7 separate regions of the Homo sapiens genome follow, and all the other regions are linked to region 1. The links come from fine-mapping of genetic effects on gene expression. A gene starts in region 1. Each other region holds a variant in brackets. All regions are shown on one strand. Distances are from middle to middle.

What was found. PIP is the estimated chance that this variant, and not a neighbour inherited with it, causes the effect. A credible set is the group of variants that fine-mapping cannot tell apart.
Region 2: its variant is the best candidate, but not a certain one, in a credible set for the expression of LPAR1 in monocytes after R848 (Quach 2016, PIP 0.61).
Region 3: its variant is the best candidate, but not a certain one, in a credible set for the expression of LPAR1 in blood mononuclear cells (TOPMed, PIP 0.57).
Region 4: its variant is the best candidate, but not a certain one, in a credible set for the expression of LPAR1 in whole blood (INTERVAL, PIP 0.59).
Region 5: its variant is the best candidate, but not a certain one, in a credible set for the expression of LPAR1 in monocytes after LPS (Fairfax 2014, PIP 0.83).
Region 6: its variant is the best candidate, but not a certain one, in a credible set for the expression of LPAR1 in whole blood (INTERVAL, PIP 0.75).
Region 7: its variant is the best candidate, but not a certain one, in a credible set for the expression of LPAR1 in whole blood (TOPMed, PIP 0.79).

Annotation. Positions count from the first base shown.
Region 1 is chr9:111,036,582-111,040,650 of GRCh38, reverse strand. LPAR1 (lysophosphatidic acid receptor 1) reads left to right here and starts at 2,181. Exons shown (of 6, transcript NM_001351411.2): 1 at 2,181-2,484. It overlaps LOC124902248 (a long non-coding RNA gene), which reads right to left and starts at 3,723. Exons shown (of 2, transcript XR_007061732.1): 1 at 2,862-3,723; 2 at 1-1,196. RefSeq lists a silencer at 2,412-2,751.
Region 2 is chr9:111,074,225-111,078,293 of GRCh38, reverse strand. No RefSeq gene overlaps it. Among named protein-coding and RNA genes, the nearest start is that of LPAR1, 38 kb to the right of the region's middle. The variant G/A (reference allele first, on the strand shown) is at 1,828.
Region 3 is chr9:111,172,593-111,176,661 of GRCh38, reverse strand. No RefSeq gene overlaps it. Among named protein-coding and RNA genes, the nearest start is that of MIR7702, 97 kb to the left of the region's middle. The variant T/C (reference allele first, on the strand shown) is at 2,023.
Region 4 is chr9:111,159,806-111,163,874 of GRCh38, reverse strand. No RefSeq gene overlaps it. Among named protein-coding and RNA genes, the nearest start is that of MIR7702, 110 kb to the left of the region's middle. RefSeq lists an enhancer at 1-2,805. The variant T/C (reference allele first, on the strand shown) is at 2,432.
Region 5 is chr9:111,066,593-111,070,661 of GRCh38, reverse strand. No RefSeq gene overlaps it. Among named protein-coding and RNA genes, the nearest start is that of LPAR1, 30 kb to the right of the region's middle. The variant G/A (reference allele first, on the strand shown) is at 2,395.
Region 6 is chr9:110,880,155-110,884,223 of GRCh38, reverse strand. All of the region lies in intron 5 of LPAR1 (lysophosphatidic acid receptor 1), which reads left to right. Among named protein-coding and RNA genes, the nearest start is that of LPAR1, 160 kb to the left of the region's middle. The variant T/G (reference allele first, on the strand shown) is at 2,044.
Region 7 is chr9:111,189,366-111,193,434 of GRCh38, reverse strand. No RefSeq gene overlaps it. Among named protein-coding and RNA genes, the nearest start is that of MIR7702, 80 kb to the left of the region's middle. The variant C/T (reference allele first, on the strand shown) is at 1,721.

The DNA.
Region 1 (4,069 bases):
CAAATAACTTACTGTTGAATACACATGTCTTGTACGGACAGGCCTCCCAATTTGATGTTAGAAGGGGCCACAGAGTAGTTAAGATAGTCAAAACAGAAGCAACTGTATTCCTTAAGAAGGTAAGAGACAAAATCAACATATTAAAAATATTCAAGTTGAGTGGTAGGTAAGAAACTCCTTTTACTTTACCTTTGATTTATGGGGAAAGGCTAAACATGGAAATAATTAATTTTAAAATGTCTTTATATTAGATATAGAAGTATTGGTGTTAAGAAATCTGATAGTAAGTACAGTGTATAGGAAGAAAGAGACGGGAAAATTAGCTAATAAGTGATTTTTTGACTTGAGTAGAGCTATGGTTAAAAATATATGGAAACCTCTTTCGAGTATATTTTTTTCTTACCAATATATACTTTTTATGATACTGAGATTTTATAGTGAACATTTGCCTATTCATCCCAATATAATATTTCTTATAGTTTGGTATCAACCCCTATGATTATTTGTGAGATAAGGGAGTGGTTTGTATTCATGGGTATACATATCTATACACATTTCTGCATGCCGTACACAAACATAAGTAGCATTGTGCATGAACATATTAGCACTGTGCATGTACTAAAATTTCAATTTTTTCACATAGTAGGTTATAAAATAAATCATATATTCGTAGGAAAGGTATAGAAAGCAAAGTTATTTAAAGTGGATTTTTAAAAAAGATTTGAATGATTTTTTTTAAAAAAAAGATTAGAACCATTGTTTTTAAAAGGAAACAGCTTTAGATAGTAAATTATTTACAGCCAGGACTCAGCCCTGAGCATCCTGTGAAAACCACACGAGCTTGGTCAAGGTTCTAAGCAGTCACCGGTGGGAGATGGTCATGGTCCCGTCACAGCATAACTCACTTGAGGCTTGAAAAGTTTCCGTCCAGCTACGGTTTGCAGTGACCTTTCTCTTCTGCAAAGCCCACGGTTACCTGGTGGCCACCACCAACATAGCCCCGCCTCGCTGTCCTGCGTTTCTCTCAATCAGATCAGTCCTGCCGAGTCCCCATGCCTTACTGCTGGTGTGCTGTGTCCTCTGTGCCATTTCAAGGCGAGGGCTCATGAAACTTTTACTCACACGCTGCTATTTTTGATATGCGGTGGCCTTAGCTGTGGAGCGAGAGGCCGATAATTGTGATCACTCCGGAAATCCTGGGAAGCCAGAAGTGGGAGATGGGTGTTGTGAGGTGGCGTGGCTAGGGAGACCCCATCGAGTGGGTGTGTTATAAGACCTGGGCGAATCCCTGTGGCTGCCACTCTCCTGAGAATGTTCCCTAGGCCTTAGTCCCGCGCCGCTCCCACCCACACCTCCAGGTGTGCAGTCCCCGCCCTTAATTACTCTCACTAAAATTGATAGTTTACACTTGCAAAGCTACACTGGGAAAGCGGAAGAGAAATTTATAATCGTGGATATGGAGAACTAGGGGAGCAGACACACTTGCTTTCGTTTACAGATCCAGTGAAGTGAAAAATCAGAACTAGAAACGTATGCACCTTCCTAGCAGCAAAGCCGCTTCTGCGTTCTTCGCAGCCTCCAGTGCAGGGCGGCGCTGGGAGAAACTTTGCGCCTTCTGGAAAGTTTAGAAAGTGAGCCACGAAAGAGAGGCCACATTTCCGGGGTTTTGCGGGCCCCGCGATGTTTTCCAGAGCTTTTCGAGTGGGAAGAGGAGAGCGACAACGTGAAAATGCCCCGTGCCGGGGCGTCCACCGGAGTCCTGCCAGCTGTCCGGCGCTGGGGTAAGCGCAGGAGGGGCGGGGGTGGGACCCGAGCTGGCGGCCACGGGTCTCCCGCTGCGGGTGTGTCGACTCGGGGGCGGGGCGGGGGAGGCTGCTGAGATAATGAATGGGAGGCTAAGGCCACCCCCCAGCCCCGGCCCTGCCACCACCGTGGGCTGTCGAGCCAATGAATGGAGGAGGGGGCGCAGAGGTCAGGGGCGCTGGGGGCGCCACACCAGGTAAGGGGTCCAGCTTGGGAGCGGGGAGGGCGGACTCTGGGGGTTCGGGTGTTGCTGACTTGTGCTACGTGGAACAAGCAGAAAAGAAGGAAGGCGGAGGAAGAGAGGAGGCTGGCGTCGGCGCTGCTCCTCTGGCCCTCCCTCTGCGCCCCCTCCTCCTGCCAGCGCGCCAAAGCCGGGCAGTAGGGGCCGACTGGCGGCTGACGCTCCCTGAGTGGCGACTCCGTCTCCAGCCCCGCTGCGGAGCGCGGGCCGGATCTGGGGCGGCCAGGGCCCGGAGCCGCGGAGCCCTCCCCGCCGCCCGGCCGAGCACGGGACCCCGGCGGGGTGGGCGCAGGGGGCGGCCCCGCTCTGGGCGACTGCCGAGGGGCGGGCGGAGGGCCGGGCTCGGCTGGCGGTGGGGCGGGGGCCGCCGGGACTGGGCGCGCGGCCTGAAGCCAGCCCGGGGGCGGCAGGAGAGGGACGCGCGGCGGCAGCGAGCGCAGGTAAGGGGGCCGGCGCGGCGTGTGGGGACGGCGCCCCCTGGGCGCGAAGCCAGAGGCCGCGGCGACTGCTCGGCCCGCCACACGGCGCGCTGGGCTCACACTGTCCCGCCGCGGACGGGCTTTGTGGTTGGGGGCGCGCGTGCGAGTGCCAGTGAGAGTGTGGGTGCGCGCTGTGGGCCGCGGCGCGGGTGGGTGGCCGTGCGTTCTTGCGAGCCGGCCTGCAGGAGGCGAGGCTCCCCTGGCCTCCCGCACCCAGCGGCGGACCGAGCCCCTGGAGGGAAGTTGCCGCAGCCGCCCGGGCCGCCGGCCCTCCTGTCCCGCGCCAGGTCAGTGCGCCCCGGGGCCCGCCCAGTGACACGTAGGTGGCCTCCGGTTACCTGGGTCGGGGTGGGTGCGCGGGAGGGCTTGCGAGGGGCCCTCGAAATTCTCCCAAAACCTCGTCCCGCTGGACTTGCACCTCCGAGGGGTCCCTGCGCCCCTGGGGCTCCGCACCTCTCGCTTCCCACTGACGACTCGGTTGTCCCCCACCACCGGGCTGAGGACTTTTAACTAAGTTTCTGTCCAGCCGCCTAACAAACGTGCTTAACAAGTAACAGGAGGTTGTAAGGCAAGGGAGGGACCTGGCTTTGAAAGTTGATGGTTTTGAAATCGACGGCTCCTTTGACTTGCGTAGGACTCCTTTGTGGTGAATGGATTTAAAGTTTATTCTTGTTTTTCTTTGCTGCCATTTGGTCTTTGCAATGTTAAGAGTGAAGGCATTCAGGACTTGCTGCTGCCTGCTGTCTGGGGCCTGAGGTTGTGGCTCTCCGCTTCTGCTCTCCTCTCTTCATTTTTGTTGAAATCCGTGGATTTTTTCATAAATGTGGGTGCTGGCTTGTTTCACTATGGACGCGTCGTTTCCTATGGGGTTAGATAGATATTGGTAAACATAAATATTGAAAATGTGATGATCACATATTGATGATCACAGCGAAATCCTCTATTCCTTCAGGCTCTAACAGTTTGTTTTTCACGTATTTGCATAAGTGTGTTTGCTCAGCTAAGCATAATTGGTAAGCCAGAGGTCTGTGATTCAGAGTCTGCAGTTCTGGTTAAGGGGAGACTGTACACTTGGAAAATGCGAAGTTTTTTAAGAAGTTATTCCCTTGCCGGATAGAAGAGTGGGTCCCAAGGAAAAAGGGTGTATTTTAGAGGTATGGTTATTTGAACCAAACTAAACATCATTAAAATACACAGGGAGGTAGAATGTCACCTAGTTCTTTCTGCCCTTGATTTCCATATCCCAGTAGGAGCGAGTATAATTGCCCCAAATGCAAAATTATGAATAATAATCAGCATTGTAAGTATATTAAGGTTGCATTTTTTTCTTGATACTTGTCTGATTTGAGGATAAAAACACCAAGTGGCAAGAGAAGGAGGTAGCTTGAGGCAGGAAGGCACGGGCGAGGAGCGAGGAGGGAAGGCTGGGTTGTCATCATCCGAGCCCGCAAGGTACACCACGTCCCCTAGCGGCGCGACCTCAGCCAGTCGGGTCAGCTCAGATCCTGGTCTCCGTCTCCCCATCCGGAAAATGGAAGGGGTTGGT
Region 2 (4,069 bases), 38 kb before region 1:
GAAACAGAGGAGTCACAAAAGGTTTCACCACCCAAAGATCTTGAAAAGAAACTTTATTTATTTTATTTTATTATTATTATTTTTTTGAGATGGTGTCTCGTTTTGTTGCCCAGGCTGGAGTGCAGTGATGTAATCTCAGCTCACTGTAACCTCCACCTCCCAGGTTCAAGCAATTCTCCCACCTCAGCCTACCGAGTAGCTGGGATTACAGGTGCCCACCACCACGCTTGGCTAATTTTTGTATTTTTAGTAGAGACAGGCTTTCACCATGTTGGCCAGGCTGGTCTCAAACTCCTGAACTCAGGTGATTCACCTGCCTTGGCCTCCCAAAATGCTGAGTAGGAAACTATATTTATTGGGCAGCTGTTATATGCTAGTTAGTGTCACATATATGTCACCTCACATAATCCTCACAGCAACACTGTGGGGTAGGTACTCTTATCCCATCCATTTTGAATGAATAGAAGTGCATTTTGAATAATAACTTTTCAAGGTCACATAACTAGTCAATGTTAGAATTAGCCATGTTATTTCATTCACTTTAAGATAGTTACTTGCCTTCTGAAAAATCTGTAAAAGAATTCATTTTATTTTATTTTATTTTATTTTATTGATACACAATGTACATATTTTCAGGGTGTATGTAATATTTTGATATGTTCATATAATATAAAACAATCAAATCAGGGTAATTGTGATATCCTTCACCTAAAACATTTCTCTTTTCCTAATGTTGGGAACATTTTAATTATTTTCTACTGGCTATTTTGAAATACACAATTAATTATTTTTTACTATAGTCACTCTACTGCTTCATCAAACAGTAGGCTTATTTCTTCTATCTAACTGTATTTTTGTACCCAATAATCAATCTGTCTTTATCTCACCCTCTCCCATCCCCTTCCTAGCTTGTGAAATAATTCTATTAGAGATGACAACAATTTTATATAAACAAGAATTAAGTAGATACATTATTGCTAAAAACCGGTCACTAAGAGAAACAGCAGTAAGTGGAAAGTAAATTTGTCATAGTGAGGACAATGATTGATAAGCTAGGAATTACATGCACTGTAAATGCCAATTTAGAAATAATCTAAACTTATTTGAGTGTTCAAATGAGGACTATGTGCATTAGAATAGTTTTTAATATAAAATTTACTCTCTTCCCACAACACAAGAGTACTCCCTACTAAATCTGGTATCTGAAACTGCAAGTATCCAGAGAATTCGCTGCCCCACCAAAGTTTCCTAGTAGTGAGATTTTGATGTGTCCTGATTTTCTACCCTAGAGCAAAGGAGGACTGTCTTTAATATTTCCCCATGATCTGCCTCTGAGAGAATAAGATTGGGGATGAGAAAGTTAGATTCTTACTCTCTGCAGTAACAGAGCTTTGTAGAAGCAAGTTGAGGATTATTTGTTTGTTTGTTTGCTTGTTTGAGATGGGTCTCACTATGTTGCCCAGGCTGCTCTCAAATTCTTGTACTCAAGTGATCCTCCTGCCCCAGCCCCGACAGTGCTGGGATTACAAGAATGAGCCACCACTGCACTCGGCCTGGGGAAGTATGTAGGACTGGGTTCACTCTCAGGTATGATTTAGCATTTTTTGTTTTCAGGAAATAGAGAGATGCCTTTACACTAAGAAGAGGAACTCACTCTAAAAATCTAATGATTCTTTTTTTTTTTTTGAGACAGTCTCACTCTTGTTGCCCAGGCTGGAGTGCAGTGGTGTGATCTCGGCTCACTGCAACCTCCAGCTCCAGGGTTCAAGCAATTCTCCTGCCTCAGCCTCCTGAGTAGCTGGGATTACAGTTTCCCACCACCACCAC[G/A]CCTGGCTAATTTTTGTACTTTATGTAGTAGAGACGGGGTTTTGCCATGTTGACAAGGCTGGTCTCAAACTCCTGACCCACCCACCTCGGGTTCCCAAAGTGCTGGAATGACAGCCGCTGTCGTGAGCCCCTATGCCCTGCCACATCTAATGATTCTTTGGTGTTGTAACGATGAATGTGCATAGTGCAGGGCTGTCTCTTGTAGTCAAGGACCAGTCCCCGTGAGCAGGGCTTGGATTATAATCCCCAGTAAGCAAGAAGAGGAAGTGAGTAAGAGAAAAATTTGATGAAGAAAGAAAAATACTAACAGGTTCCAGGTTTCCTTTGTTTTTCTTTCTTTTCCTTTCTTCAGCTTAGGGTGGGAGCTAAATCACAACTTTCAAAAGGTCAATATAAATGTTATTCCCTTAGGGCAACAGAGATGGAATCCTTAAAAATAAGTAAAAATAACCAAAAGTAGACATCTTTTGGAGAATTTTCAGTTCATGGACAGTCCAGAGAGAGTTGTAGGATTTCCTTTCCATCCTACCAGAAGCATACTTTTACTGTCTTCCCCACTAACAAATTCTAATAACTGCTAGGTAAAATGGTGGAAGTACAAAAACAAGAATATCATAGCAGCACAGGTCAAATTTGAGAAAGTTACTTTTCTTACACATTCTATGGCCGTGGGAGGAAATAGGGATATAGACCTGTGGGGAAATAAATGTCTTGGTATAAGAATACACTTAACAGGGGGGAAAGAAGTGACAACCTGTGAGATTTGCTACGTAAGGAGAAAAAAAATCATCTGCTGTCTTCATATCAGGCTTTCGCTCTCCTTTCCAGGCCAAGAGTACGGCTAAAAGTTATTTCTTGCTGAAAGGCTGCTGAGGGAAGGGGAATCCCATAGTTCCAGGGCTTGATTCCTGACTAAAACATTGTCAGTTCAAAACTTCCAGCAGTTCTTTGGTTTTGTGTGTGTGTGTATGGTGGGAATTAGGCAAACATTTTTTTGTTATGGGAAGACCACCACAAATACCCTATTCTGGATTGGAGAGGAGAGAGACCATGTAGTTTCAAGGAACTAAAATACTCTGCTATTCCTTTTTTTTTTTTTTTTTTTTTAAGACAGAGTCTCGTTCTGTTGCCCAGGCTGGAGTGCAGTGTTTCTATCTTGGCTCATTGCAACCTCCACCTCCTGGGTTCAAGTGATTCTCGTGCCTCAGTCTCCCAAGTAGCTGGGATTACAGGTGTGTGCAACCATGCCCAGGTAATTTTTGTTATTTTTAGTAGAGACAGGGTTTTGTCATGTTGGCCAGAATGGTCTGGAACTCCTGGCCTCAAGTGATCCACCTGCCTCGGCCTCCCAAAGTGCTTGGATTACAGGCGTGAGACACCATGCCTGGCCAGTACTCTGCTATTCCTTTTGACATCATTGAGGATAGAGTTGGATCTTTGCAGATTTTGTAACCTTTAAGAAAATGTTGCTTTTCTAAATATGATTTAGACTGTACTGTTTCTTAAATTTATTTATTATTCTTAGGAAGTGTGTGTATGTGTGCTTTCATAGTTATCCACAGGCCACTCACTGGGAGTGGGGTATAGGACTAGGAAAGACCAAAAGCAATGATACGATCAAAGTCTCTCAGAGATCATACTTGGAAACTCATGGTGCTAATTCAGTCAGAATAACCTAGACTTTTGGAAGTATCTTTAAGTCTGACTATTTTATCCTGAAGCTGATAGGCTTTAAATATGTGTTTCCTCTGAATCTCACGTTGAAATGCAATCCCCAGTGTTGGAGATAGGGGCTGGGTGGGAGGTGATTGGAGCATGAGGGTGGATTTCTCATAAATGATTTAGCACCATCCTCTTGGTGCTGCTCTTGCAATAGTGAGTTCTTGTGGGATCTAGTTGTTGTAAAGTGTGTGGCAACTTCCTCTCACTCTCTCTTTTGCTTCTGCTGCCGCCATGTGAGATGCCTGTTCCCTCTTCACCTTCTGCTATGATTAGAAGTTTCCTGAGGCCTCCCCAAAAGCTAAAATTGGCACTATGCTTCCTACACAGCCCGCAGAACCATGAGTCAATTAAACTTCTTATAAATTACCCAGTCTCAGGTATTTCTTTATGGCAATTCAAGAATGACATAATACAGATTCTTTTGTTATAGAAGTGAAGTTTCTATTGAAGAGACTCTCTGCCATCAAACAAGAAAATAATCTAGACAGTTTTAAGTTGATCATATCAGGAGATGTGATTT
Region 3 (4,069 bases), 140 kb before region 1:
CCAAGATCATGCCACTATGCTCCAGTCTAGGCAACAGAGCAAATCCCTGTCTCTAAGAAAAAACAAACAAAACAAAAATTTAAAATAAAACAGCTAATGGAAAATATTTTTAAAACTCTCTGTGCAGATACTGATAGTTCTCTGCTTATCTGTGCTGTCATTTTATATAATAATAGAATTTTTAATTGGGCCCATGGTCAACCAGTGAAAGAGTACATTTCCCAGGATCCCTTGATTCTGGATTCTAGATGTGGACATGCAATCAAATTCTGGTCAACATGGTGGGTCGCAGTGATGTTTGCAACTTACACTTTGCAAATCCTTTTCTTCCTCCTTATGCTTCTTCTGTGGGATAGAATGTGGTTATGATGCTAGGACCTACAAGAGTGATCTGAAATCGTGGTGGGAAACTGCATATTGTGGAAACTAGGAGTATAGCAAAGAAGAAAAAGACCAAGCACCCTCAGCCCTAGACTGTCTGCATGGACATACATATACCTCATTTTAGCCGCTATTGTTTAGGATCTCTCATTTATAGCAGCCAAACAGGATTTCTAACAAATATGCCTCTTTTCTTGAGTTAAGTAGGAAAAAACTCAAATTTGAGATTATTGAAAAATGATGAGGATATTGGATCTCAGATCTTATATGCTGGAAACTAAATATCCAGAATGTATTCTGTTGGTGCATTTTTTATTAAATAAGGAAGAATGAAAATAAGCTAACGCTCATCAAGGGGTTAGAAAATATTCAAATTAAACTAAGGAAAGCAAGAGAAAAAAATTAAAGATAGAAACAGAAATTAAGACAAAACAGAGAAACTGCCAATAAAGTTAAATATATAGGGTGAAAACAAAACATTGCAAAATAATTTTCTCCAAGATGGATACCTGAGTCAATTTTATGAGTTTTCTTCAAACCTTCTGATAACTGGCATTTGCCATGGCACATGAAATATTCCAGAGTCTACAAGAGGAAAGAAAGTTTCCTAATTTATTATACAATGCTAGCATAACACTGATAGCCAAATCTGACAAAACAGACAAAATTAAAACTCTACATTTATGATCACTGAGGCAAAACTTGCTAAAATGCTTACTATAGGAAAAAAATTCCATGGTTCCAATGACTTGGCAAAAAAACTACCTAAAATGTTTATGAAAGACAAGAATAAAACTATGTGTTTACTATATAAAGGCAAAAAACTACTTCAATATTTTACAAATCAAATGTAGAACTATGTTAAAAGAAAAATGATATTTAAGAATATGAAATAATAGTAGAAACACTATTAGCACAATGTATCATGGCATCACTAGATCAAAGGAAAAAAATATTTGAACATTTTTATAAATTCTGGAGATGCATTTTCTATACTTTTTTTTTTTTCTGAGACAGAGTGTTGCTGTTGCCCAGGCTGGTGTGCAGTGGCACAATCTCTGCTCACTGCAACCTCTGCCTCCCAGGCTCAAGCAATTCTCATGCCTCAGCCTGTAGCTGGGACTACAGGCAAGTGCCACCACGCCCAGCCAATTTTTGTATTTAGTATTTAGGAGAGACGGTGTTTTGCCATGTTGGTCAGGCTAGTCTCGAACTCCTGGCCTCAAGTGATCCACCTACCTTGGCCTCCCAAAATGCTGGTATTACAGGTATAAGCTCTATAAGTATTTTTTAATACTTAGAGATGCAAATTTGTATATCCAAACATGACAAAACAAGGAAAACTAATATGGTAGCAAACAGTGCTGTCTCATAACACTAACATCATATGTAATGGTAAATGCTAAAGGCATGTTTATCAAGCGCATAAAGAGGACAGGAACATTGGTTTTCGTTACTTTTTAAAGGTAGTTTTTTTGACAGTTCTAGCCAAGAACAAGGTAATAGTATTACCATTTCTCAGTGATATTTTGAATGTAAGCAAAAATGACAACACAAAATCCTAGAAGGAAAATAATAGAAATAACAATATTATTTTCCTCTATATGAAAACAACATTGGTAAGTATAATGGAAAAATATA[T/C]AATTAAAATGTCTGCAATACCAATTCTAGATTAGCTAAGGAAAAAAAAACAATGAGAGACAGACTCAAATAAAAATGAATAAATGGAGACATAGTATATGTTTCTAATAGGATGATCCAATATGTTATCAATCCTCGGGTTAATTTATATATTTAGTGCAACTTCAAGCAAAACCCCAACATGAATATTTTGGGCCTATCAAAATTTTTTTGGAAGTACAGGAAGTCAAGAATATAGAATAATACGTACAATAAAGATTTTTAGCATTGTTTACATTGAGGTAATTGATAGAGTAAAATGTACAAATCTTGATTTTACAGCTCAGTGAATTTTTATGAATGTATATATCCCTTGTGATTACCACACAAGATATAAAACATTTTCACACTCCTAGAAAGTTCCCTTGTGTTCCCTCCTAATCAACAGCCCCAACACAGAGATCATTATGACTTTTATCACCATAAATTAGTTTTGCCTGGTATTGAATTGCATAAAAATGGAAGCCTATAATAATACTCTTTCATGTCTCTTTTTGACAATCACCCATGTAGCTGTGTGTATCAATCATTTGCTCTTTCTTATCGCTATATAGCAGTGCATGGTATGACTCCATAACTTGCTGATTCATTTTTCTCTTGATGTACATTGTGTTATTTCCAATTTTGGACTTTTGGAAATAAAGCTGCCATAAACATTCTTGAGTACGTCTTTTTGTGGCTATATACTTTCATGTCTCTTAGGTATATACGTAGGAGTGAAATTTCTGGGTCGTAGGATAGATGAATGTTTACTTGATCAGAAACTGGCAAACATCTTTCCAAAGTGATTTTACCATTTTTCTTTCCGCTCTCCCATCATTGGATATGAAACCCAGTTGCTCTATATCCTCATCAGCACTTCCATTGCTGGTCTTTTAACTTTAGTCTTTTTGGTTGTGTGAAGTTGTATCTCATCATTTTAATTTTCATTTTCCTGGTGAATAATGACATTGAATATCTTTTTATTTGTTTACTTTCTATTCAAACATTTTGCCTTGTGAAGTGACAGATGGAGTCTTTTGCTTGTTTTAGTTGTCTTGTCTTCTCCTTATTGATTCGTAGGTATTTAAAAATATGTATGTTGGGCACAGATCTTTTTTTGTTAGGCATATGTATTGTAAATATTTTACCCCAGTGTGTGACTTGCCTGTTGGCTTTATTGATGAGAAGTGGCTTTCTGATGAGCAGTATCATTTTTGATTCAGTCTATTTTCTTTTAAAGTTAGTCCTTTTTGTATATTGCCCAATAAATCATCCGTCATCCCCAGGGTTGCAAAGATATTCTCATGTTTTCCTACCGACGCTTTACAATTTTAGTCTTCACATTTAAATCTCTGATACTTCCTTGAATTAATTTTTGTGTATGATGTAAAAAATGGATAAAGATTAACTTTGGTGGGGGAAAGATGTCTGGTTGTTCCAGCACCATATATTAAAAATTAAGTTCCAGTTTATAAACATGATAATCTCTCCATTTGTTTAGCTCTTAATTTTATTCAGTCATGTTTTATAGTTTACAGTGCTTTTGTCAGAAATCAAAGGCTCATATTTGTGTGGGTCTATTTCTCTAGTCTGTTCCATTGATCTATTTGTCTAGCTTTAACAACAATATAGCAATTGCCTTGTTTTTTGTAATTTTGTAGTAACTACTGAAACCTGGTACTGTAAGTTCTCCAGCATTGCTGTTCTTGAATTTCTTGGTTATATCAGGTCATTTGTATCTCCATATCAACCTTATAATCATCTTGTATATCTTTCCTAATAAAAACCTGCTGATATTTAGACTGGGAATATGTCGAATTTTTAGAGCAATATGGAGAGGACTGGCAAATTAACAATATTGAGTCTTCCAGTTCATGAGCATGATAATAAATTACAATAATATAATTTATTATTATAAATAAGATAAAATTAAATCTTATTTAATTTTGATAAAATTAAATAAGATTTATTTAGATCTTATTTAATTTTATTAAGTGATGTTTTATCATTTTTAGTTAAGAGGTTT
Region 4 (4,069 bases), 120 kb before region 1:
GTTTCAGAGATTTTATAAATCCTGCAGTAAAAGGAGAAGAAGAAAAAAGAAAAAAAACGGAGGTGAAAGGGCATAATTATGGAGGATGAGGAAGTACAACAAAGAACGGGCTTTGCAGGTTCTTTTTGGTTTGAAAAATAACATTTTCTAATGTCAAGGCCAGCCTTTGATTATAATTGACAAAACACACTTATCAAGCCTGATATGAAAACAGAAGGTACTGAAGCTTCCTTTTTGGACAGGATTTGGATGAAGGCTACAGAGTAGTTCAGGATCCACTGAACTTACCTGAAGATGCCTTTCCAGTCTTCCAGCAGTATAGCTGTTACCTTCTTGTCATCATTTCTTGGTTTGTAATATACTGGGTTAATTTTGCTTTCTGTTCACTGCTGCTTTTTAAGTACAGCTAGCACATGAAAGGAGTCTGCCTTAAAGAGATGGAAAAAGCTCAAGGCACAATGACATGTTGTAAGGGTAAAAAGTAGCTGCTAGACTGGCCTTAATATTATATGCCAATGATTGACATAAATCGGGATTTGTTTCTTCTCACTTAGGCTGAATGTTCTTCATATGGCACTTTATGTTACCCCTATTTCAACTCTCCCAAGAGGAAGTCTCATACTCCCCAGTTTCCAAATCGTCAAAAACATTCTCCTGTTCATGACCAAGGGTTCTCATTCTTTCCTCCTCTTGTTGATTCTGAATATTGGAAAGAAATGAGGTTAGATCAAAGAGAATAGAGAGGAACCATTACATTTCTGGTCATTAAAGAACATCGATCTAGGTTAAAATTCATCCTTTTGTCAGGATGTTATAAAATATTTTAGAAGGAAATACTGTGTGACTATGTGCTAGGCGGGTAAGTGGTGCTAGCAAGAGAAATCAGATGCATTCATAGTGAGCTATGTTACTTCCTGGGATCTCAATCACAGTCACACTCCTAATCATTGATAACAATGTTTGAACATTTACTCTATGCTAGGTGGTTTACGTGCATTATCTCATTTAATTCTTTCAGTAATCCTATGAAAGAGATTACACTTTTACCTCATTTTACAGATGAGCAGACAGGTGCATAGCAGTTAACAGCTCAAGGTCACTAGGATAGTAGGTACAAGGGAGAATTCAAACTCATCTTTTTGCTCATATATAACTCATAGATCAGAAGAATTAAGCCTACAGTCTTACCTCTTTTGATATATTGCCTTGAGTTTCATATGTTTGGATGTCATAGGAACTTTTAAAAGATTTAGCCAGAGTGATGGTCCTGATGACATCAGAGAAACACTTTTGATTCCTCCGAAAAGCAAAAATGTCTATGATACTTAGACTACTGAGTACAGAAAAAAAGGATTTTTTTTGTATCATACTTTTTAAAACCATAGACCTTAATATAGCTCAAAGAAAAAATGAAATTGGTTTTCAAATGCTTTTCTTGTTTTCCAGAGAAGGAGCTGTTTTCCATGTCTTAAGTGTGAATACATTCTTTTGCTGATTAAAAATCATAAACAAGTTTTTTAGTGTCTCAAGATCTATAGTCTATCTTTTGAAAGTCTGGGAAAAATCTCTACACTGGAATAATAATTATTCTTTGCAAAGCTGTGTATGCCTGTCCACAATGAGAAACACGTGACAAGGTGTTTAGTTATGGTTCCAATCCACGTGAGCTGGGAAGGACTTTCAAGTTAAATAAATCCTCACGTGTGTGACAAAAACAAGATCCAATATATTATACTATTGGTAATGCCAGCAAGGAAATCTGAGAAGAGAAGTGCTAATAAGGGTGGAAAAAATTTGAAATTTTTAATATTAAGCTCTCATTTCTTTCTCTTTCTGGTCTGCAGAATTAATAGCCTGATTATTGTAATTTCATTGGGTACTGCTAGTTTATTTCCAGTTTTGAGAATATTACACTGCTAATCTTAGAAAAACCAGTCTCTAACACGGAAAAAGCAAATTTAGTTACTCACAAAACTGTTTTCTTTCTTTAAAAGATCACAGAACTAATAAAGTAAGCGATCTCCCATCTTCCGGACCAGTGAATACAAGCTTGCATTAGATTGCTGACATCAGATGTTACTTTCATGATGCTGGAGTTGTAGTATGTATTACCTCTCAAATACATTTGGCATGAGTCAAGCATTTAAAAATTAAGTCCATTATTGATTCTTTTTTATCTTTTAGAGAAGCACACTAGTGTCCCATTTATCCAGCATGATTGGGGATTGAGATATTTTATTTAACAGATATTTACCCAGAAATTTTACCTTCTCAAATGCCAGTTTTAAATACTTGTGGCCAGATTTTATGGATATCTTTCTAGACTATATGAGTTATCTGTCTGCCTTCTTAAAAAGAAGATGCTGAATATAACTTCTTCTTATCTTCACAACCTCAGATCTTTGTTCTGAATGAAATTGACTGGTGCTAC[T/C]CTGTATTCTGTTGCATTGTAGAGTCACTGCTGATGTGTAAAAAGCTACTGAGGTGTGAAGAGCTGTGCTAAGGCTGACTAGACCAGGTCATTTGAGTTCTTGCAAAGGCCTTTGGAAATTGTGTGCGTATATGTGTGGGGGTGTGCTCTCTCTAGTACCATCCTCATAGTTGGTTGCTTCTACTCTCTGTTGCTGGAATACCTCACCCTAAACATGTGGCTCTGAGAGAAGCTGCTAAACTCTGCCTCGGTAAGCTGGGGCTTTGTGACATCTGTTTAGGTCATTTGGAGACTGTGGTTGTTCCATTTCTCATTCTGGATTGTGTAGTAGATATCCGAGACTGCCAGATTACTCACCTCTGAGTAAGCAGGCAATTTCTAATGTTATGCTTATTTTGCAAAATATTAAACAATTTCATACTCTCCATCCCAAATCTTTTTTTTTTAATCTGTTGTAGGCCTTACTTTACTGATGATACTACTATCTCTTTCAATCACACCCATCAGAGGCCCAGGTCATAGCATGGACTTTGGGGCACGTTATTTTAAAGCCCAGTATCTGAGTTTGTATTTCTTTTCCCCAACTTGATAGTTGCATGATCAGAATTAAGTGAACAGATATTGAAAACTTGAGTTACCTTTTGTTGCTCTTTGTTTCAAAAAAAATGTTTAAATATTTCCCAGATGATCTTTACCTATGGAAATTAATGGCAGCAATTGCAGCCTTTAAAAAATGTTAAATCATATATACATTGTTTCTGATAGGATGATCCAATATGTTATCAGTCCTCATCGGGTTAATTTATATATTTAATGTAACTTCAAGCAAAACCCCAACATGAATATTTTGGGCCTATCAAAATTTTTTTTTGGAAGTACAGGAAGTCAAGAATATAGAATAATATGTACGATAAAGATTTTTAGCATTGTTTACACAGAGGTAATTGATACAGTAAATGATCACAAGCTAAAACCCATTTAAAAAATATTTATTGGGTACCTGTTGTGTACCGAAGAGCATTCTGGGCTCTCGGGATAGAGTGCATGGAGTGTACAGCCTAGTTAGTTGACAACAAACGAGCAAGTAAATGTACAGGTGTCAAATGGTGGTAGTGCAGGAGGTGTGTGGGATAGAGTGTAAGTGGTTGAGATGAACTGAAGATGTTTATGAAAGCTGCTTCAGCAGAGTGGTTGGGAGGAAAGCCTGGTAGGAATGCATCCAAGAGAGGGTGGGAAGAGCAGAATTGGCGCCACCATGGATAGGCAAGCTTTTATAGAAGTTTTGTAGTAAAGAAAGGCAGAGATGTGTTATGGTATCTGGGGTAAATGAGGGTTTTGTTTGACCTTCTAGCATTTTTGTATGCTGGTATGAATGACTGAGCAGAGACAGGGAATTGAAGATGCAGGAGAGAGAGGGAACAATTGTTGAAGCAGTGTTGTTGTTGAGTTGGCAAGATGGATGAGATTGACTGCACAAGTGAAGGGTGTGGCCTCAGCTCAGAGGCTAACAGGTCATTCATAGCCCCAGACTGCTAAGAACAAGGCACACATACCAATATATCAGTAGATGTGGTAGCTGGTGTATGTCAATGCCTATTCTGATTGCTTCTGTTTTCTCAGTGAAAAAGGAAGCGGGAT
Region 5 (4,069 bases), 30 kb before region 1:
ACCTTTAGTGGCCCTGGAGAAATTAATTAACCTATTTAGTCATTTGGTTCCTTTCTTCCTTTCTCCCTTCCCTTTTTCTTTTCTTAGAACTTAATGGAGTACACTGGGCTCACTTTCTTGGAGTTTCTTTTCCTCTCTTCTTTCTTATCTCCTTCTCCCTCTCTTCCTCTTCCTCTCTTTGTCCCCCTACTCCAGTTTCCTCATGCATATATGGAGAGAGAAAGTCTTCTTCTTTTCTTTTTTTGAGATAGAGTCTCGCTCTGTTGCCCAGGCTGGAGTGCAGTGGCGTGATCTTGGCTCACTGCAAGCTCTGCCTCCCAGGTTCATGTCATTCTCCCGCCTTAGCTTCCCGAGTAGCTGGGACTACAGGCGCCCGCCACCACGCCCAGCTAATTTTTTTGTATTTTCAGTAGATATGGGGTTTCACCGTGTTAGCCAGGATGGTCTTGATCTCCTGACCTCGTGATCCACCTGCCTCGGCCTCCCAAAGTGTTGTGATTACAGGCGTGAGCCACCACACCCGGCCCAGAAAGTCTTTTGCAAGAATTTTGTGTGAATAAAATTGAAGCAATTCTCTGAAGTGTATGGAACATTGTAGCTACTCAGTGGATGTTAATTTTCTGCTATCCTTTTAATAGTTTAGAACACTGAGGCTTACAGGTTAGGTGTCATCTTCGATGAAGAGATTTGGCCAAATTTAGGGGTTTTATTTATTTCCCTGGTTTGATACTTGCCTCCCCCCACCTCAATTACACTTCGTCACCACTCAAGTTTGAATGATGTCTACTAGGTAACCTGAATAGATCTGGTGATGCCACATCACTAGGCAGTTTCTAAAAAGGCAACTATTCCTTTCTGTTTCCTAGAAATGTGTAAAAAGTAGCCCTATCATGGAGACAGCAAGGCAGATGACCAATCAACTGTCCCTGAAGGTACATAATTTAATCCGGTGGTCGAATTAGATAGAAAAAAACCGTAAGATATTGTATAATAGGAAAGGACAGGCACTTAGATGATCTGAGTAGAACAGTGTAAGTATTTATTAATGAAAAAGTGTTTCTTGATGGGCCACTGGGATGGTGGAGCTAAGCTTTTGGAATCTTGTGGCTATAATAAGAAAGCTATTTTTTCCAACTTTGAGATAATATTTCATCTGTCATTTTCTGGCATAATTGGACATTAACAAGACATTAAACATTGAGCTCACTGATTCAGATTCACACAGAATAGAAGCTTCAAAAAGTCTCTTTTCTTGGGAGAGGTCAAGCTTATCTAAGCACTCTGAGACTCGTGTGGTGTTATTCACGCTGGACAGATGCAAAAGGGCACTGGCTCAAACTCCTTCTCTTTCTCCATTTGTTTTTTATAGGAAAATATACAAGGATGACCATGCCTGTGTATTGTACAAGTCAAGAGCCATGTGACTTGTGGTTTTATGAACTTAACTGGTAGCTCTTTCCAATGGGTAATATCCACCCCGCTCCTAGGAATATACCCTAGGGGCAGATATGTAAATTTGTTGATGGCAGACATGAGACATAGTACCTTTACTGAGGCTGTGGTCCCAGTGGTCAGACAAGAAACAGACATGCTGAGTGGTGTGCTCTCAAACAGTAAATGGAGGGATTGATGTCACTTGATAGTCCATATTTCACAATAAGGCACGAAGTCTAGCTCTCTACCCTTCAGAACTGAATCATGCGCACAAGCCTAAAAAAGGAAAACTAAAAGCAGAACATGAAGAATATGTTCCATTATAAGCTCAGGAGGGAGGTGAAAAGTTTAAGCAAATGAAAAACAGAATCATTGTCAACGGTTGGATATTGTGATTCACATACAAACGCACCAACTCATTAACCAACTGCCAATTGTCTTTTGGGGGCAGAAGAAAATATTACAAGATATAAGACGGATATTTAGCTAGTTTTCCTTAGCATAATAAAACGCAGGCTTTCGATCTTTTCCAACTCTTATGTGCTGTGGAGAAAGGGTTTTAGTAGAGAGTGAGAGAATAGATCCCTGCCACAGGGACACAAGCTGGTATAATCAGAGGAGGGAAAAGACCGTATTATTTAGGATAAACAAGAACGGGAGAGCAATTTAATTGGTTCCTGATGTTCCACATAACACAGGCCAGGGCTTTTAAAACCCAGTGGCTTATTTTTATTTGTGAATATATTTGAGTTTTTAAAAAATGGGTTTTCTGGCCGGGCACGGTGGGTCATGCCTGTAATCCCAGCACTTTGGGAGGCGGAGGCAGGCGGATCATGAGGTCAGGAGTTTGGGACCAGCCCGACCAACATGGTGAAACCCGGTCTCTACTAAAAGTACAAAAATTAGCTGGGCGTGGTGGCATGTGCCTGTAATCCCAGCTACTCAGGAGGCTGAGGCAGG[G/A]GAATTGCTCTGACCCAGAAGGCGGAGGTTGCAGTGAGCCGAGATTGCGCCACTGCACTCCAGCCTGGGTGACAGAGTGAGACTTCATCTCAAAAACAAAAAACAAAAAACAAAACACAAAAAGTCCCACAACAACGGGTTTTCCATCTGTGTTGGTGGAATTCCAGTCAAGGAACTTCGATGCTGGCTGCTTTCATCTTGTGATCACCTTTCAAAACCATAAAAAGGTCTTCTCTTTTCCTTTATGTAAAAGTACTTCCAGCCAATATTTAATATGAAAGGGATGTTTATCAGACTTGGGATGGGCATATTGAAGCTATTCAGAAGTTGATGCTTTCTTTCCCTGTCTCTTCTTTTTCTCATATACACACTTTTTTTTCCCTACTAGTCTCAGTGCCTTAACTATATTTCCTGTTGTGGATTTGTACAGCTGAGAGAGGTATAGGCAGAAATAAAATTCTTTTAAAAGCGAGTGAGAAGACTAAGAATTAAAGGGGAATTGCTGCGTAAGAGAGAAATGTGCATTAATTCAATTGCAAAACCTCTGACTGACAGTGAGCTGTGATTATTTCAGAGAGCTGACAATTTCAGTACTGTGTGTTTGCCAGATCTTGATCTGAAGTCCAGACTTAGAGGCGGTATTTGGAAGATAATTCTCAGTGGGTGCTGTTGTTACATTTTTTTCCTTCCTATCTCTAGGAAAGCTATGTCTATAAATTATTTAAATTCAGTAAATCAAATGGGTTTCTTTGTGAACTTTTGCAAATAAAAATGGAATTCGTTATTTTAAAAACCAACTGAGGATGATTAAACAGTTTTTTCACATGAAAGAAGTATCTAGTTTCTGGATCACGAAGCCTCATGACCTGAGACAACTCTAAAGCAAACTAACATTTTTCAATCCACTTTCCCCATAATGTTTTTTATAAGCTGTGATACTCATGAGTTAACTTACATATAATTAACATGTTTCTGATGCAACGTAAACATACTTGCAGCATTTGTGTTTATCTCAACCTTTAAAACAAAACACTCAGTGAAAGACATGCCTCTATTTTAAGAAAAATAAATTTTTGTCAACCTTAATTTACAAAATAAGACACAATAGGATGGATATTTTCATGTCAAAAAGAATTAATTACTTGACCAAAAAATTACTACACAATTTCTTTAAATTACAGACTCTGGCAATACTATTTAAGTATACTTTTACTAACCATAATTTCATCAACATGTAACTTTTCAGTAACAGATTGCAATAAAGGACCACAACCTTCTAATTAGTTGAGTTTTAACTATTTTTAATAAAACAACCACAGTCTTTGCCTGTATTACACTTCTGCAGCTGACAGTTTTTAAAAAGATTTTTTTCCATACTCTTCTAACACAGAACTCTAGTATCACATGGAATATTTAAGCCTTTTTTCATAAGGTCTATAGGATGGAAGCTTTCTTGAAAGATAATGAGCTAGTAAAATTATGGTGAAGGATAAAGGTGCCAGGACAATGTCAGCTTTTAAATATCTATTTATCATACATTCCAGATGATAGAAAAGAAATGCTGGAGCAAGAGGTCAGCTGTTTTAATGTTTCTCTCTGAATCAAAGAGGGGAGGGGACTTTATGGATCCCAGCTGTGCTTACTTTCGGGTTTCCTGGCTCGTTACCATTCTGTA
Region 6 (4,069 bases), 160 kb after region 1:
CATGGTTAGGGGGATTGTGATAGACTGAAAGGAATGGAAAAACTAATATGTCCAGAAAGCAGACATGCAGTGCAAGACAAAGCTTGGCGAGTAAGTAAGGACTCGTACTATGCAGGTGTTTTACACAAAAAGAATGGGAATCATACATCAGACTTCTCACCTGCAAGACTAAATACTAGAAGACAGTGTTCTGAGAGAAAATGATTTTAAGCTTATGCAAACTTTCTAGAAAGAATGCTCATGGATACACTCTAGAAAATGGGGGTGGGGGAGGGAGAAGAAAAGAGATTCCAAAAAAAAGATGTACGTTAGAAGAAACAATGTGCCACCTAGGTATGTAAAATAAGCAGCCCTCAGTGGAAGCTGAGAAGCAGGCCTAGAAATCAATGGGTTCGATTGGGTTAGTAAGTCAGCGGGCTGCAGGAAATGTCTTTGGGGATAAATTGTATAATTAAAAAGTTGGAAATACATCTGTGGCATGCTTCTGCTGTAATAAACTGTGTGTTTCTTATCTGTAACAAAAGAGAGAATAAAAAGAAAAAGCAGTTAGAAGTTCAAGGGAAAACAAAAATCTGTTCAAAAGTCATGGTGTTGAATCTGTTTTTTAGTAAGAGAATTAAGGGCATCACATTTATGATATCTAGTCACATGTTTGGGCTTATTCTTGACATTCTATTTACGTGTGTGCATTTCCTTGCTTTTGCTTCTGTCTTTTCTTTTCCTTCCTTTTGATAAATTGAGTTTTCTTTTCAAACTGTTTTGTTCTTCCTTCCTTTTTAAAAAATTTTTGTTTGTTTCTTTAGTGGTTTGAGTGGTACATCCAATATCTATTTTTAATAGTGGCTAACTTTAAATTTTAAAAACGTACTTTAAAAAATTCAAGATATAGGCCGGGCACGGTGGCTCATGGCTATATTCTTAGCACTTTGGGAGGCGAAGGTGGGCAGAACAGCTGAGGTCAGCAATTCAAGACCAGCCTGGCCAACATGGTGAAAGCCCAACTCTACTAAAAATACAAAAATTAGGCATGGTGGCGTGCACCTGTAATCCCTGCTATTCAGGAGACTGAGGCAAGGGAATCGCTTGAATCTGGGAGGCAGAGGTTGCAGTGAGCCAAGATCATGCCACTGCACTCCAGCCTGGATGACAGAGTGAGACTCAGTCTCAAGTAAAATAAAATAAAATTCAAGATATAATTCGGTTTCTACAGTAGCCCCCAAACAAGACAAAACTTTTAGCAAACTTTCTACTCTTCTGCCTCCTCTTCTTACCTTTTACTTAAGAAAAATCAAGACTTCTAGTTTCTTGTTGTTAAAATTTCTAAATTTATAAATATCTGAATATGAGTGAGTTGAATATATAAAAAGCACAAAAAGTAATACGGCAATCATCTAATGACCAAACATTAAAATCAAACATGCTAACATTTTACATAATTTGCTTCAGGTCTCTGAAAAGAATTGTAGATATAACCAAAGCACCGTCCCCTACTCCTTCCTCCTGCCTGTCATCTCAGAAGTTGTCCGGAAATTGCTGCTGCTTGTTCTCATTCATGTGCTTGCACTTTTATTATGTATCTGTGCACTCATTTAAAAAACCCTCACACTTAAAAATAATTTGGCCAGGTAATACAGGTTAAAATTATAGGATACAAATTCTGAACCTTCAAAAGTGTGTAGGAATTGTTCCACCATTCTAGAATTTGGTCTTCCAGGGTCTTCCTTATGCCCCTTTGAATGTCCTATAGCATCCATTTAAAGACCTTACACACGGTAGATGTTAATGTTTATTTTCCACCCGTAATTTAATGACATTTCTACTTATTAATTTTTCTTGTTTGGGATATATGTACTAGGCGCTTAGCTATGACTTGCTAATTCATCCAATGGAAGATACTGAGTGTCTGCTGTCGCCAGGCAATATTCTAGATTCCAGAGATACAGACATGAAAGAGGTAGCATTCCTTCCTTCATGAAGTTAATATTCTTGTTGAGGGAAGATAAAACAATAAACATGTAAACCAATAAATACAATAATTTTGGG[T/G]ATAAATAAAGGATATATCATTTGGGTATATCAGCATGTGATGATAATAAAATGGGAGAATGTGGTGATGGTGGTGGGCTGTTGCTCTGGCTAGGATAACCAAGGATAGCCTTTTTAAGAAAGCGACATTTAATAAGTAAATAGACATAAAAAGCTGCAGAGAGAGTAATCCCAGCAGATGGATCTATAAATGCAAAGATCCTGAGACAGAAATGGGCTTGGTCTGTGTGACTGGAACCTCGTAAATGAGGAGCGAGTGGAAAGAGATGAGATCCAAGAAACTAGCAGGGCCAGTCATGTGTAGGGCATTATGGATAGCAGTAAGGATTTCAAGTAGGAAGACTTTGGAGGGTTTTAAGCAGGAGAGTGACTTAGTGCAAATTGATTTATGCTTGTTTTGTACAAGCTGGACTTTAGGGAAGCAGTGTGGAGGAAGAGGAATTGGTTAAGAGCCTGTTGCAATTGGCAGATAAAAGGTATTGCTCACTTGGCTAGGATGGTAGCAGTGGAGAAGTGGTTTTACCTGGCTTTTCAGCACCTGAATGGTCTGTAAGAATGGCACTAGCATTCAAGTCATTTCAATGTGGACTTTCCAAGGTACAGTTGCAGGATGAGAGTTAGAGTCTGTTGTAGGGTATGGAACTTGTACGTGCGCAATACACACTACTTAATGTTAAGGAGAGTACACCAGAGGGAAGGCAGCTTTGGCATTCTCTTGGGCACAGGAAAGTAGCATTGTGGTGATCAGGAGAGTCTAATGAAGCTAAAACTGTCACCCAGGAATGTTAAAAAGAGAACATAATGAGTATTCTGCTCTGCTTTAGAGCTCTGTATGGTGTTATTATCCTTCTCTAAAAGATAAATGTTGCTCTCAAGAGTGAGTAATGAAAATACTAGAGCACATCATACAATAAATGAAATCATGAAACTTTAAATGTATGCAACATGTGCTGTGACCAGGAAGGAATGGCAGTGTTGAACACCAAACTAGATGGAGTAAAATTGGTATCAGGGTGGAAATAATATAGAACAATAATACTGTGGAGATACCTCAGGTAAATTATATAGTTTCAATAGTCAGGAAAAAAGATTTTTTAATTAATCTGGGTTATTCTTTTAGAAAAAGCGTTAATCTCAAAAAGCCATCCACATACACCCCCATTATAATGAACCCTTAGCTGCAAGACTGGGGAAGAATAAGCTTTGCATCTGTGGCCACTTTTTCTGACATAGGCTCTGTTAAGATACATAGCATTGAAGGATTTCCTAGCTAACTATGTAGTATGTGTGTACCTTAATAGCAGAAATCACAACGTAACTACAGAGATGAACTAAAATTTGATTAGATTCTGGGATACCACGCTGCCTGACCTGAGGGAATAAACAATTTAGGGAAAACAGAAAAAGCAACTTAGGCACTCATTTATTTTCTCCCTTGATTCCCACCGCAGGTCTCTGAGATGGGACTGTTTCTGGGATCCTCATTTGAAAAACAAGAAGAGTGAGGCCACCTTGGGCACAGTGCTGTTGTAGAATTGATTTACCTTGACTTGTTTTGGATCTATGGGATGTCTGGTTCTTTTGTAAAAACACAACTTTGCCAGCCAGACTAGAAACGCTTTCTGTGTTTTTCATCAAAAATCTTGGACACTGTCTCTAGAGGTCTTCTCTGGCAAGGACTGTTTTCCTCTTTAACTTTGGTTCTTGCATTCCATATGTAAGCAAAGTTCAACTAGTTAGGAAAAAGTCATTCTAGAAAAAAAGACTGTAATTGTGAGACCAGATGGTAAGCATTATTCAGCTGATGAGGTTGGATAGATTTGAGGGAAGGTGTGGTAATATGATCTCGATCTGCAGCTGTGACCTGTTGTTCCAAAACAGCCTCATTCCTCCCTGCCTTTTGCGTCTGCATTCCAGCACCTCTCCCTCCATCTTTGTGGGCATTGGGGTTCTCACAGATTGCTTTGACAGATGCATCAGGGAGGAATAAAGCTTGTTCAAGGAAGAACAACCCACGGATCTGTTT
Region 7 (4,069 bases), 150 kb before region 1:
AAGGATCAAACTTTATCAGTCTTAAAATTTTTTTGCTCCAGTGGAAGCTAGTGATCTCAACATTTGTTAGAATGTTTACCACATTTTCAGTGTCATGTGACACCTCTGTATAACACATTACATTCCCATATGTACTAGAATCTGTTTTCTGGCTGCATATTCTGTTTCACTGATCTGTTTGTTCTGGACCAGACCTGTTAGGTTTTTAGCAAAGTGCCTAGAAATATATTAGTATATATGTACTTTAACAACTTGCCAAAAGTCTGGAGGTTAAGATAGAGTTTGACTCATTTGAAAAGTTGTTCATATTATTGGAGTACAGGGGAAAGGAGGAGAGCAGGTGAGATGGGGGCAGTGCCTGGAGATGAGGCTAGACACATAGGCAAGACTTGTAAGTCGAGCTGAGCAGTTTATACTTAATTACAAGGGCAATGGAAAATTATTTTATTAAAAGCTTTTAAGCGGAGAGTGGTAGGATCAGATACAGCAGGCCAAAACAATTGTATTCAAAATAAACTCAGTGGAAAGCAAGAGCCCAAAGTCAGAAATAACCATAAGAATTTAAATCCCTTAGGAATATGCAAGATCTTGGGAGGAAGCACTGGACTTCCCCAGTGCTGATCTAAGGGTGAGCCCAACTGACAATTGGTCACAGAGAATGGTTAAATAAATGGTGGAACATTCACAGTTTATTATTTTCCATATTAAAATAAACCAGTATCTAATTCCTACCTTACCAATTACACTGTAGGAGAATTTTCAATGGCATAGAAGACAACAACTTTGTGGCAGATTGTTAAATGAAACTGGAAAGTTATCTTTGGATAGATAACCCAGAGATATATGGGTGATTGTAACTTTTTTCTATTATTTGAATATTCTTTTAATAATTTGTTATACATTTTATAATTAAAAAGGAAAAAATTACTCTAAGATAAAAAAGACACTTGGATTCTGTATTTTCTGAATTTTTGTATGTCTGGAATGATTATTTTTTTCTTTCACACAGGAATAACTATTCATTTAGAGATAATCTCATGTCACAGCTTTTCCCCTAGGAAATCCTATAGACTTTTCTCTATTAGTTTTTTGCATTTTTTATTGGAGAGGGTTTTGAGGTCACACAATGTCTTTTTATGGGGGTACAGGGTATTTCTTTGTTGGTGTGGTAGTTAATTTTATATGTCAACTTTACTGGGCTAAGGGATACCCAGATAGCTGGGAAAATATTTTTTTCTGGGTATCTGTGAGGATGCTTCTGGAAGAGACTGAATTGAATTGATAGACTAAGTAAAGATCTACCCTTCTCAGCCTTGAGGGGTATCATCCAATCTGTTGAGGTCTGGAATAAGATAAAAAGGCTGGGACATCAGAGCTGCTGCTTGGTTCTTCAGACTCTGAGACTTATACCACCAGCATCCACTCCCCTTCCTTACTCTACCCTTCCTTTTTTTTCCTCTTCCCTCCCAACCCCCTCAGGCCTTCAGACTCTTTTCCATTGGTTCTCCTAGTTCTCAGGCCTTTGGATTCAGAATGAATTACACCACTGGCTTCCCTGGTTCTCCAGCTTGCAGGCAGCAGATTGTAGGACTTTTGGCTTCCATAATTACATGAATTGATTCCCATAATTAATTATATATGTATCTATATCATATGTATCCCTCCTATTGGTTCTGTTTCTCTTGAAAACCCTAGTACAGTAGGTAACATCCCTCTAACT[C/T]TGAAGACTTATAGGATATTTTCTTGATCTTTGTAATTCAGAAATTTTGGCATGGCTCTCTTTTTGATAATTTTACCTAGAATATGCTAATCACCTTTGATATGCATAATCTAATCTTTATATATTTTAGCTCAGAAAAGTTGTAACTTCTAAATTATTCTGATTTAGTTGGCCTTTCCCTAATGTTTTGACTGGATTTTTATCTAATTTCTCTATATTTATAAAATCATATAGTTTTCCAGTCTGTGTCTTTACAGCTACATTTTAGGATGGCTCTTCAGGTTATTTTCTACATTTGTTTCTTTGCCATATACTTTCCTTTCTTAACTGACTCCATTGTAGATTTTAATTATCTTTCAATGCTAGTTTCCTTTTTGTTCTTCTATACCTCACCTGGCCTCCTATTCATCTCTAAGTATTGTCTTTGCATCAAATTTTGTTGAACTAAGTTGTTTCTATTCTCTCTCTTTGTATTTGCTCTGTCTTCTGGCATCCTATTAAGGATGCCAAGTTTTCTAAAAATTTCCTTTGCTTCCCACCATTTTTTTTTTGAAACAAGTTCTCACTCTGTGGCCCAGGCTGGAATGCAGTGGTGTAATCATAGCTCACTGTAACCTCAAACTTCTGGGCTCAAGTCATCCTCCTGCCTCAGCCTCCTGAGTAACTAGGAGTACAGGCATGTGCCACCACGTTTGGCTAATTTTTTTTTTCTTTTTGTAGAAACTGGGTCTTGCTACATTGCTCAGGCTGGTCTCAAACTCCTGGCCTCAAGCAATCCTTCCACTTTAGCCTCCCAAAGTGTTGGGATTACAGACGTGAGCCATTGTGCCTGGCCTCCACCAAATATTTGTAAGAATAAGTAAGTCGCTTCTAGTCATCAGGGTGTATTATCTTTTCCTTGTGATGCATTATGTTTCCATAGAACCCACTTAATATTGTTTTTCTTCTGTTTAAAAACATTTTTAACTTTTAAATTAAAAAATTAAATTTAAACAAAATTAAAAAGTTGAAGCAAAAATATTTTTTCTTCTTTTACAAAAATGGAAAGAGCTATTTAGACCTGGTGTTTATCATCAGTCAAGATGAGTGGATTATCCTTGAGTCTTTGCATTGTCTCACTGGGTGCCACTTAGCCAATATTTCACTGTACTCTACACATTTAATGAGCACATTCTGCTGGAATGAGGTATGCTTTTTCTCTTAGCTCTGTTCTCTGAAGAGCATGTGCAACATCACAGCCTGCATTGTATGTTCTTATCAAGGCTCCTCCTATTTCTGCCTTTGGTATCTGTCTCTCCTATGGAGCCAGAGTGAGAGAGTGAAGGATGAAGTGTATCTCCTGTTGTCTTTCAACTCAGCATTGCCCTTTGTTTCATATGATGAAGCTTGAGAATGCCTGAATTATTTTTTCTCAATCAAACTCCATTGGCATTTTAGTCAATGGAAATTAATTGCCTTCCATATATTTCCATTATAGTATCTATTAATCTTATTAATGGTTTCATAGTTTTCCAAATCTTCATCAGTATGTTAGTATGTTTTCAGGAAAGGTTGTTGTAGAAGTTGCTAAGCAGATACTAATTTAAAAATGTTAAACTATGTTTTTAAAAAATTTTAATTACATTATTTAATTTTTATGGGCACATAGTAGGTATATATATGGGGTATAAGGGATATTTTGACACAGGCGTACAATGTGTAATAATCACATCAGGGTAAATAGGGTATCCATTGCTTCAAGCATTTATTCTTTGTGTTACAGTCCAATTATACTCTTTCAGTTATTTTAAAATGTACAACTATTGACTATAGTCACCCTGTTGTGCTATTAAATACTAGGTCTTATTGATTCTATTTTTTTGTACCCACTAACCATCCCCACTTTCCCCCAACTTCCCACTACCCTTCCCAGCCTCTGGTAACCATCATTCTACTTTCTATCTCCATGAGTTAATTTGTTTTAATTTTTAGCTCCCACAAATAAGTGAGAACATGTGAAGTTTGTCTTTCTGTGCCTGGCTTATTTCACCTAACAAAATGACTTACAGTTACATCCATATTATTGTAAATGACAAAATCTCATGCTTTTTGTGGTTGAATAGTACTCCATTGTGTACAGGTACCACATTTTCTTTATCCATTCATCTGTTGATGGATGTCTAGGTTGCTTCCAAATCTTGGCTACTGCAAATAGTGCTGCAATAAACATGGGAGTGCAGATATCTCTTTGATATACTGATTTCTTTTCTTTTGACCATATACTAGCAGTGAGATTGCTGGATCATACAGTAGCTCTATTTTTAGTTTTTTAAGGAACCTCCAAACTGTCCTCCTTAGTGGTTGTACTAA